Homo sapiens: one gene and its partners. The protein of the gene in region 3 interacts with the protein of the main gene of each other region in a pairwise test. Each region holds a gene or a part of one and is shown on either strand. Other genes may lie near its edges. The genes, in order: PSMF1, ALG13 and QKI.

Region 1 (3,655 bases), on a different chromosome or scaffold from region 3:
AGAGGCATCTTTCCTATTAGTTTATTTAAGAAGAGGTTTAATTTTTCAGCCTGGGGCCAGCCAACTCAGCTGACTCAATTGTGTTTTCCAAGCTCAGAGGATATTTGTGTTGCCTCTCCAGCCATCTGCTGTTTCCACCCTTCTGGGGGTGATAAGAAGGAGAGGAAGGTCCCAAGAGTGTATGCTTGACTATACAAGTTGACAGTTAAATGGAAAGCTAGATTGTCTGCTTTCTCTTAGGTTTTGCTTCCTCTGTTACAGGGGAATTGTGTACATAAAACTTGATTAGAAAACCAGTGCAGCCACTGGCTTCAACAAAAATCCAATACTTGAATTTGGATTTCTTTCTTGAAGTCAGAACCACTCCTCACAAGAACTTTACAGCTTTGTCAAGTGGTTTGGGTGCCAAGGGGATAGGTAAGGGATGACTTAGGTGGTTATCGACATAAGTTAGAGAATTTTGTTTTCTGTTGTGGGAAATCTAAGGATTATGATGAAAGAGAGAAAATGCCCAAAATGATCTGTTTAAGTTTCTTTGGGTGAATTTTAGTTCAGAGGCATTGGGGCAAATTCATGGCCATTAAAGAATGCTTCCAGTGCCAGGATTTTGCCTAAGAAGACAATTATCTTTATTCTCTTAGGGCCAGTCTTGTGGACCTGGCTGGGAAAAACCTTCTCTAGCCATAGCCTGGGCAATCAGGAGCTCTGAATTCCAAGCACAGCCCTACACCTGACTTGCTGAGACCTTGGGCAGCTCTCTGACCATCTCAGGCCTTAGAGTTTTCTTTTCTTTTTCTTTTTCTTTTCTTTTTTTTTTTTTTTTTTTTAATCCGAGATGTCTCACTCTGTCACTCAGGCTAGAGTGCAGTGGTGCTATCTTGGCTCACTGTAACCTCTGCCTCCTGGGTTCAGGCAATTCTGCCCCAGCATCCTCAGTAGCTGGGATTACAGGTCCCCGCCACCATGCCTGGCTAATTTTTTTTGTATTTTTAGTAGAGACAGGGTTTCACCATGTTTGCCAGGCTGGTCTCGAACTCCTGAATGCAAGTGATCTGCCTGCCTCTGCCTCCCAAAGGGCTGGGATTACAGGCAAGAGCCACCGCGCTCAGCCTCAGGCCTTTGATTTTTCATCAGAGGAAGTTAAACCACGTGACTGTGTACTTAGGCTACTTTCCAACTGTGGCTTTCTGGGACTCTTGATATTTGATGTCAGGGTTTACAGGGCAGTTGCAGACCATGTTTGGCCTGATATCGCCAGGGTCTGTCCTCTGTTTACTGGGGAACATCAATTGCACTGCAGTTAGAGATATCAGTTTCACCTGACTTCAGGGATTTTCTGTAACTCTGGAAGCCAAAGGTGATGGGGTGGTGAGCAGACCAAATTGTTTATATTCCAAGAGAGAACTCTGGTGGATTGAATGCTGTACATGGAGGATATAATATAAATTTAAAGGCGTTTGCCAGAGCAAAGATGAGGATGTCATCAAATTCCTGGCTTCCAAAGTAAACAAATCCACGACACTAAACACTAAACATATTCGGGAAATTTACCCAGTTTGGGGTGAGGGGATAGTTTCTTTTTCGCAGAAGAATGGTTTGATTAGTTTTACTTTTGTTTTTCCTCACTCTCATTTCTATGCTTCAGGCCTATGAATTTCATTGTCATCCAGCCAGGTTTTAAACCATGACAGTTGCGACATCCTGAATTTTATTTGGGATCTCTTTCCCCAGAGGATTTCTGAGCACCAGGGGTGACGAAACAGGAGAGGCCAGCAATTCTCAATGTGTGGTCTCCCCTTGTCCTTGGTGTGTGAAGTTTTGCTTTGCTGGACCTTTGTCTTTTCCATTTTCTTCATCTCCGGTCCCACTCCCTCCCGCTGTATTCTCATGACTACAGATCTTCCCAGTCCACCTGCCCCATGGTGAGCAATATAAATATACATCCATGAAAAAAGATTATAGCATTTTTTTGTGCTTTTTAAAATTTTTACATAAGTGGTACTGGAGTGTAAACCTCATTTTTTGGGGAACTTTTCTTTAAATCATATTTTTTCTTTTATATATAATACTATCATTAGATCTGGTTTATTCCTTCTGACTGCTATATAGTATTCCACTATAAGCATATTTTGCATTTTATCTCCACTTTTGCTACCTTAGCCAAGGCTATAATGAAGATCCTTTGTTATGTACCCTGTGCACAGGGTTTCTTCTGGGAGTAGGGATTTTGGATCATAGGATATTGGCTCATCTAATTGCACTAAAAACTGTCAGATTGCTCCCCGAAGGGGCTGTGCAAGTTTAAATGCCCACCAGCAGGGACTGGAGGTTCCCATTCTCCCCACACCTACACAGACATCTGGCAAAAAATAGAAAACTGGGTAATAACAGTCCGAATCATGTAACTTAGTGTCTCATTATTTCAGTTCTGCTTCTCTGATTGCTAGTAAAATTGAATAACTCTTTAGACACTATTAGCCGCTCTTTTTCTTGTTCATATCTTTTGCCACTTTTTGGAGTTCCCAATTGTTATTGTTCATTTTCCAGGCATTCCCTTTATGTAGAGGTTATTAATTTCTTTCCTTTGCAGCCATGGCAAATGTCTCTTCCTAGCCTGTGGCTCCTTATTAATTTAGTAGTGTCTCTGTAGAACAGAAGCTTTCAATTATGAACAGTGTCAAAGGCAGCATTTTCTTTTATGGATCTTGTTTAAGAAATCTTCCCCACCTAGAAATCACTATATTATTTTTCCTGTAGAAATAATTTGAGAACTATTTCTCAAACTTTAGTATGGAAAGTCTTAGGATTTTTAAAAAAGAAAAGAGGAAGACATCACAACTCACAATAAAAGATGTATTTTACACCCACCAGGCTGACAAGCATGAAAATGGCAAGCATTTTACCCCTACTAGATTGGCAAGCAATAATAGCAATGTTGCCAACTACACGGAGCAACAGGAGCTTTCATACATTGCTAGTGGGAGTATAAATCAGTAACTCTTTAGAAAACAACTTGACTTTATCTTATAAATTAAAAGCTTTTCCTCCATGCATACTGTATAGAAATTTATCCACGTGTACCAGATGTGTACAAGAATGTTCATAGCAGCATTGTTTATAATAGCAAAACAAATAAGCTGGAAATACTCCAAATCACCATCAACAAGTAGATGTATAAATTGCAGCATAGTCATACAGAATGCTGTGTAGCTGTGAATGTGAATCAGCTGTAGTTAAATGCATTGACATGGATACATTTCCAAAAACTATCAAATAAAAAAGGCAAATGACGGAAGTGATGCTGTGTATTTAAAATTCAAAAACATTTGAAGCTATATTTTTATGGTTGCATGTATAGTAATATAACTCTAAGGAAAAGTAAAGAAATTGTTTAAGAGTGGTGATTACCCTTGAAGGGGAAGGAGGGACATTTATTGGAGTATGCTACCCAAGGCTTTAGCAGTATTGCTGATGTTCTATTTCTTAAGCTGGTGGTAGAGACATTTTATAATTCTTTGTTATTTGTACATGTGCTACATTTTGTGTATTATGAAATTATAATTTTTGTACATCACTGCAGTCAGTTAGCGTGTATTCGGATCTGTGTTTTTAGTCAACACCTTGGTAATCCTATTGAAGTTAGCCTAACGTCCAA
Region 2 (3,655 bases), on a different chromosome or scaffold from region 3:
AGTGGTACACTGCTCAAGTGATGGGTGCACTGAAATCTCAGAAGTCATCACTAAAGAACTTATTCATTGTAACCAACCACCACCTGTTCTCCAAAAAACCTATTGAAATTAAAAATTAAAGACAAAGAGTTTTTTTTTAATGTATGCTGATAATTCTGAAGACATTTATCCTTTATTTTAGCAACAATAGAAATTTGCTATGGATTTGGTGATGGGGGCAGAGGGCTTGGAACATATGAAGAGATTGAAAGCTATTGAGGTTGTTTAAATTCAGAACAAAAAGGAACATGTGACAAGTGAAATTGAAGGAACAGAAAAAAAGTATTCTTGTCATCCCTTGTGGTAAGATTCTTACTTGGCTACTTCAAGAGGTGATATCAAAAGCACATGATATGAGAATAGTAATGGTGGCAGGAAATGGGGGAAAAAACTTTCTCTGGAAGGAGCAAAGTAAGGGAAGGAGAAAGAACAGAAAGAGAATTACGTATCAGAGTTTTCTTCTCCTTCCTAAGGTATATTGTCTAAACAGTAAAAACAAAAATTTAGTACATGAAGCTGCCACAGTTTAGTCATAATTAGAGAATATAAGGTAGTTATTCAAGTTCTTCATAAATATTCCAGATTTCCTGAATAGATGGTAGGATTGCCCTTCCCAGCTCCATCCAAAGTCAAGAATGACCATGTTACTTGGTCAATAAAATATGACCAGAAATGTCAGTGTTCAATTTCTGTATCTTTTGCCCTGCTGTGATGATCATGATGGCATGTGTCCATCAGCCTGGGTCCCTGGGTGACTATGAAGAACAGTCATAGTCTGGCAGCCTGCTGCCAACTCGCATTGAACTATATAACATTAGCAAGAACAACTTTTCCTGAGTTAAGCCACTGAGATTTTGGGGGGTTGTTAACTGCAGCATAACCTAGCTTGACTAAAACAGAAATTGGTAACTAGAAGTAGGGTACGGCTATAACAAAATCCTAATTGAGAAGGAGATTATGAACATGTAGCTCTTAGGGTAAGCAATTTAGAAGACATGATGTTAGTATTGTGCTTTGATAACTGTTGGCATTGTCTAAAGCAAGTTATTTTAAGACAGGTGTATGTAGGAGAGAATTAGTAGTTTGCAGGCAGGAATGAAAGGGAATAGATTCCTTGCATACAGGGACTCACAGGGTTGAAGGAACAACTGTTTCAACCCTAAACTATAAAAGGTAATATTGATGAATGGTTTGAACAACGACAAACAGTGAAAACTCGACCTCGCAGCAAGAATGAACTCTTTGGTTAAAACCCGAGTGTATTAAGATGTCTCAAAGCTAGAGTTCAACTAAGGATGTAACACCTAGTAAATCCTTGCACTTCAACAAAATGGCTTGTAGAAAAATGTCCAAAATGCATGGCTCTTCCATCAGTGCCTGATAAACTCAAGCCACTTGCAATCAAATAGACAGAAATATAAGGATAAAACCACAAAGAATTATAGCAAATCTTAGTAGTATATCTATAGAAAAGAACTGTAGTATGGCTATTGGTACATGAAACCAAAAGAAATCAAACAGAAGCAGAATAAATTAATCTTACAGCCAAAGAAATCACGAGCCAGAACTAAAACCATTCAACTGAGATAAAACCACCCTTGGGCCTCCAATCTTCTGTAAGTAGCAAGCTTAGAAAGCTGCTCGGTTGCCAAGGAAGGATTATTCTCCAATGCCTACTCCAAACACTGCCAAGGAAGGATGGGCCTTGGGAGTAACCAAGAGCCCCAGAAAATGAACGAGAGTTCCTCCAGGGAAGAGTCCCATGAGTATGTTGGGGGCCCTTACAACGTCTGCCCATGAAGGTCTCAGAATTGCTACAGGCCAATAACTGTTTTTTTCTCCCTTTATGAATAGAAATTTCAGTCCCTGCTTCAGCACTGTAAACTGGGGAGGGAGGGGGAAAAAATAAAACCTCTGTATTTTTGGTTTTAAGTCTCAAGATCACAAGAAGCTACATCTGGACCCAATATAACAAGTACTACACATAGCCCAGAAATCCTAGGCTTTGAGTTTGATTACACTGAATGGGACATTTTAGGATGCCTCCTTTGAGACAGAAACAAGTATTCTGCCTATGAGAGGGAGGGCAAGTTGAATGATATAGTTCTTAGCGCTGTTAACATGTTTCTTTTTGCCTTCCAGCACAGAAAAGTTAAGACTCTTCAGTGGGACCTGCTCTGGCCAGTGAAATGGAAAAGAAAGTGACATGTATCACCTCTAGTGGAAACTCTAAGAGCCAGTGCACCATTTACCGAATTTTATTTCCTGCCTTGGCAATTGTGGATGAATTTCCATCAGCCTAAGTACCTGAGCAAGCCCTTCTACAGACCTCTACTAGACATGTAGCATAAAGGAGAAGCAAACTTTTGTTATATTGAGTGAGATGTATCATCCATTCTAATAAAAAAATCATAATAAAACCTTCTAAAAGATCATTACTGCCTATGTTAGAATATCTCTAAATATATTAGTTCCAGAACACGAGTTAATTTCTGTCTCAATTTCATCTTCAAAATGAGAATGATACTAAGCCTCACAGGGTTGTTCTGATTTAAATACATTTATATGTATAGCTCTTAACAGTGCCCTAGTACATAGTAGGAGCTATAACTCTTTGCTATTATTAAATACCTACCAAGTTTGCTGTAGATGCAGTTGTGCTATAAACACCTGAAGTTTCATAGTCTGGCTCTAGAGAATATAGCCAAAGTAAAAAATGAGCATTATTTTATAGCTTGAAATTCTATAAACAATGATGAATGCCAGATCACTTCTAGATCTTACTGACCTGCACGATAAAGATATTCTTCATGATATCGCCCTGGGGAAAAAAGACAAGACAGAAGAAATGTGTTTATATAGGTCTTTTTAGCTCAGCAGAGCCAAATGGCCAGCACTTGCTTTTTCCACCAGTTTTATGGTTATATGTTCAAAACTAAAATGCATACATCCTGAAAAGTGATATGAGCTTTCACACTAGTCAACAGATATTGAAGCCACAGACTAGCTGTAAGCTGTACAAATTTCTCCTCTGAAAATCCACTTAGCTCTTAGAGGTCAGGCAGAAGTGAAAACTCAGTTGTGTCCAATTTTTCCAGTGAGGCTACAGTGTGGTGATTAAGCACATAGGCTCTGGAGTGAGGACTGCCTAGATTTGAATTCTGATTAACTACATGACTTTAGGCAAGTTATTTAATCTCTGTGCCTCAATTCTTCACTGTAAAATGGAGTAACAGTACCTAGCTCATAGGCCTTTTGAGGATGGTTAATGGAAGTGAAAGTAACTTAGCATAGTGCTTTACACATACTAAATACTCAATGGTGTCTATAAAGTATGAGTATAATCCACTGTTTCCTTAGGTGGACATTAAGGGAACATGTATGCCTCATCTGTTTTTCAATCTGTTTCATGTAAGTAATACATGTAAAATGAGTGTGTCCTCAAAGGATGGCTCAGTAGACTGAAGTACTTTTAAGATTTCTGTACCACTGAAATGCAGAGAAAGTCAATACTCAATCGGACAGTTTTCCACCAAATATAAACCCGCAGTTCTAAACTAAATTTGATTCTTAAACACACCACTTATCAAACACACACGCATGAAACTCCTCCAGA
Region 3 (3,655 bases):
TCTGTATGGCAAGAAATAAAATATGTATTAATATCTCTAACTGTGGCAAGAAAAATTAGTTTTGTTATCCAGATTTCAATTGTTATGTTCAAGAATGCTAACAGTATTTTCTCACCAAAATTTGTATTTTTTATTTATCTTTTTTTTTTTGGAGAGAGACCTACAAAAGCTACTAGTCTGGTATTATTTGGTGGGCCTAAAAGTGCACCTATTTGACTAAACGCATATATATGAGGGACTTCTGTTTCCAGGCAAGATATAGTAACAGGAACCAGATTCACCTTCCTGCTGAAACAACCAAAAAACTGGCAAAACGTATCAACAAGTTTCAAGCCACTGGACATCAGACAACTAAGGACAAATGACACAGAGTTGGGAACAACTGAGGTGAGCCTATAACTGCCCCCACTCACTGGCTTGAGAGTCTCCAGACAACTCCATGAGGAGACTAAGCAAGAGTCCAGGGAAACCGAGGCAGCCAAAGCTCAGAGAGTCCTGGGAGAGCTGCCACTCAAATATTCAGCTGAACCCTGATCGTTGCATACTTGAGAGAAAATTCCAGAGGCCAGGGAAGGAACCACCCAAAAGGATTCCAGGTCAAAGTGCCTGGCTCTAGAAAAGAACAAGACTGAAAGACTTGAAGGATTCCCCACGGGTAAGGGACACAGAAAGGTCTTGCCTCAGTGGTAGGAAAAAACTAAACCTAATCTAAGCATTGTTCCAGTACAACTAAATACATTTTAAAAGTAAGACCAAATGCCTTAAATTATTTCCAACTAACTTAACTGTGTCCCAGGACAAAGCTCAAAGATATTTATAGGAATATAAAAATATCCACCCAACAAGGTAAAAGTCTGGCATACAATTAGAAATTAACGGGCATGCAAAGCAGCAAGAAAAATGCAATACATGAGACCACCTCCCCCCCAATCAATTCACTCAAACCAATCTAGAAGTGATACAGATGTTATTATAAATAGACAAAGACATTAAAAGCTCTATGTGTGTGTGTCAAACACTAATGCATATAGATACTAATACAATGAAAACTGAGGAACATTTATAATCAAATATTTTTGAGAAAAGCTTAAGAATAAAAACTAAAATTTGACTTGCCGCAGAAACCTCTATACATGGAGAAAAGCCAGAGAATTTAAAAGGAATAATTATTTTCATGATAGAAACAAAGTTGCAGTATTATTTGCCATTTTGCTTTATTGCAAGAATACATTTTTAAGGTGTAAAACACTTGGCCAATGCGTACTCTTACTAATTCAACAACTTAAATGATAGTTAAAAATATAAAAATAGGAGAAAGCTACATCTACCCTGTTTGCTTCAAAATCAACATTTTTGCTTACACTTTTAAAAACAATTGAAGGAGCAAAAATTTTCAAAGATGGAGAAATTAATGGAATGGTGTACTTACACTCCCACCAAAAATTCTTCTACAACACTGCAGAGTTTAAAATGTACAAACTCAGCCGGGCACAGTGGCTCATGCCTGTAATCCCAGCACTTTGGGGGGGCCGAGGCAGGAAGACTGCTTGAGCCCAGGAGTTCAAGGCCAGCCTGGGGAACAGTCAGACCCTGTGTCTATTATAAATAAATAAATAAAATGTCCAAACTCGTAAGAAGTAAGAAAATGGGAAAGGAAACCATTTAAAAATTAAGAATCTAGAAAGCAGATGGTTAACTTAAAATTTACCTGACTCTAGTTAAGAAAGAAACTTATTTCCTTGCAATCCACCCCAAAAATACTGAGGAAATGGGCAGCAGTGAAAACAGGGGTGAGGGTGGGGCTGAGATTGCAGGACTAGATGAACTCTCATTAAAAAGCAGTTCAATTCCCATATCCCCTGTCCACAAATGGCTAGCTATCAAGCACTCCCTAATTCCCAGCAGTAGACCAGAAACTGATTCTGAAAGGAAGTAAAACACTTGCTCAAACTGCATTAGGAGAACAGTTGACAGGGTAACTTCCACTCTGACAGCTGGGCTGGCCGGCCATCTCCCCTGCTCCAAATGCAGAGCAAGGGAACCCAGGCCCACATCTTGGGGACAGGAGACTTGAACAACTGACCCTTCAGAGAGTTAATAAAAGACGCTACAATGCTGAAACAAGAATGCTCTATTTAAAAATTTTGAATACAAATAGAAACTCCTGCAACTAAAAACATGAGAGCAAAGATGAAAAATTTGATAGAAGGTTGGAAGACAAACTGAGGAACTCTCCAAGTAGCAAAAGACAGAGATAAAAAAAAATGGTGCAGAACTGTATAATATTAGAGGACTAGTCCAAGAGGTTCAGAAACTGAAATGACGATGTCCAACTACCAATATAAAGAAAAAGAAAGCAGAGGGAGAAAAATCATCAATGTTATATATTTTTCGCAAAACTGAGGGATCTGAGGTTCCAGATGAAAAGGACCCACTGAGTTTTCACCACAAGGAATAAATGAAGCGGACACTTCAAAATCAAACAATGTAGCAATTGAAAGTAAACACTAAAAGCACCTCTTTTAGTGTTTTGGAGGGGGTGCAGTGTGAAGAGAGAGACCGACCAACCCGTTTTCCACATCAGGCCTCAGAAAATCTTTCATCCATGTGCATATCAAATGTCACACAAAAAAAGGCTTTGAGGTCATGCTACGCAGAAGCCATGAAGCCATATTCATTCTACTGTAGTCCATTCCAGCTCAAGAAGAGTTAAATTCCTTCAGTGAGTTTGCAGCTTAGTAATTATTTAATACAAATACTATTTCTCCCTGTGATCTCATTCTGTTTCTTAAGCAGATTATAAAGGCAATCTGGGATTGGCAAATTTTATAGAGAAATCAATAAAACACACCCCAAAAGGTCCTCTTTTAGTCATTAAGGATAGATGCAATTATAGGATGGTTACTTCTGAACTTAAAATATCCATAGTAAGAATCCACTCACAAAACCCATTTTCTCACTTAAATACATCAGGACAAAGAAAAGGTTGAAATAAGCAGACAGGAGGGATGATGATATGGACGCACACCAAAAATGCTGTATTTATTAGAAACTGTGTTCTACGAGGCATTCGTTTCTTTTTACAATTATGTTTCAAACAATCTTTCAGGGGTTAATAGCTGAGATACTGATGTGGAAAAAAATAGCTCATGACTACTATAATGTCTGTTTTACAGTTACCATTTGCAATATCATTTCATAATATATGTGCTACTAAATCTTCAGCAACATAGAAGAACACAGTTTTGCATCAATATAATCCCAAATTTACATTTTCCAGCACAGTACTGCCCCCTGATTTCTAGACCTCCAAATTCAACTGCCAACTAGAAATGTATACTTCAATCTCTAAAGCAGTCTGAACTCCACATGTCCAAACTGGGGTTCATACCTCCCTGCTGCAAATCTGTCCACAATTAATGTCTCAGCTATTACTCATCCTGAATGAATTTTCTGAATCAGCGTGGATTTTTAGAATTTGAGGCTTTGTAGGAAATCTCTGAAACACAGTCATGGCTTACTTGTGCTTTGACAGAGACTGGCTGCTGCACATGCACCCATTCACATCTATCCACACTAATCTGAAGTGCCGTGTTCATTCACTTCCCACGATAGGCTCAGATTTACTCCATGCTGTATTACTGGCCATTCCCCA

What was found.
Region 1: the proteins of QKI (region 3) and PSMF1 interact in a two-hybrid assay, tested with the Homo sapiens proteins (one large-scale study listed by BioGRID and IntAct).
Region 2: the proteins of QKI (region 3) and ALG13 interact in a two-hybrid assay, tested with the Homo sapiens proteins (one large-scale study listed by BioGRID).

Annotation. Positions count from the first base shown.
Region 1 is NC_000020.11:1,121,489-1,125,143, forward strand, and holds part of PSMF1 (proteasome inhibitor PI31 subunit), read left to right. Parts: intron 1-3,655. UniProt on the Homo sapiens protein: Plays an important role in control of proteasome function. Inhibits the hydrolysis of protein and peptide substrates by the 20S proteasome. Also inhibits the activation of the proteasome by the proteasome regulatory proteins PA700 and PA28.
Region 2 is NC_000023.11:111,729,600-111,733,254, reverse strand, and holds part of ALG13 (UDP-N-acetylglucosamine transferase subunit ALG13), read right to left. Parts: intron 2,861-3,655; coding exon 2,828-2,860; intron 2,731-2,827; coding exon 2,675-2,730; intron 1-2,674. UniProt on the Homo sapiens protein: Catalytic subunit of the UDP-N-acetylglucosamine transferase complex that operates in the biosynthetic pathway of dolichol-linked oligosaccharides, the glycan precursors employed in protein asparagine (N)-glycosylation.
Region 3 is NC_000006.12:163,529,633-163,533,287, reverse strand, and holds part of QKI (KH domain-containing RNA-binding protein QKI), read right to left. Parts: intron 1-3,655. UniProt on the Homo sapiens protein: RNA reader protein, which recognizes and binds specific RNAs, thereby regulating RNA metabolic processes, such as pre-mRNA splicing, circular RNA (circRNA) formation, mRNA export, mRNA stability and/or translation.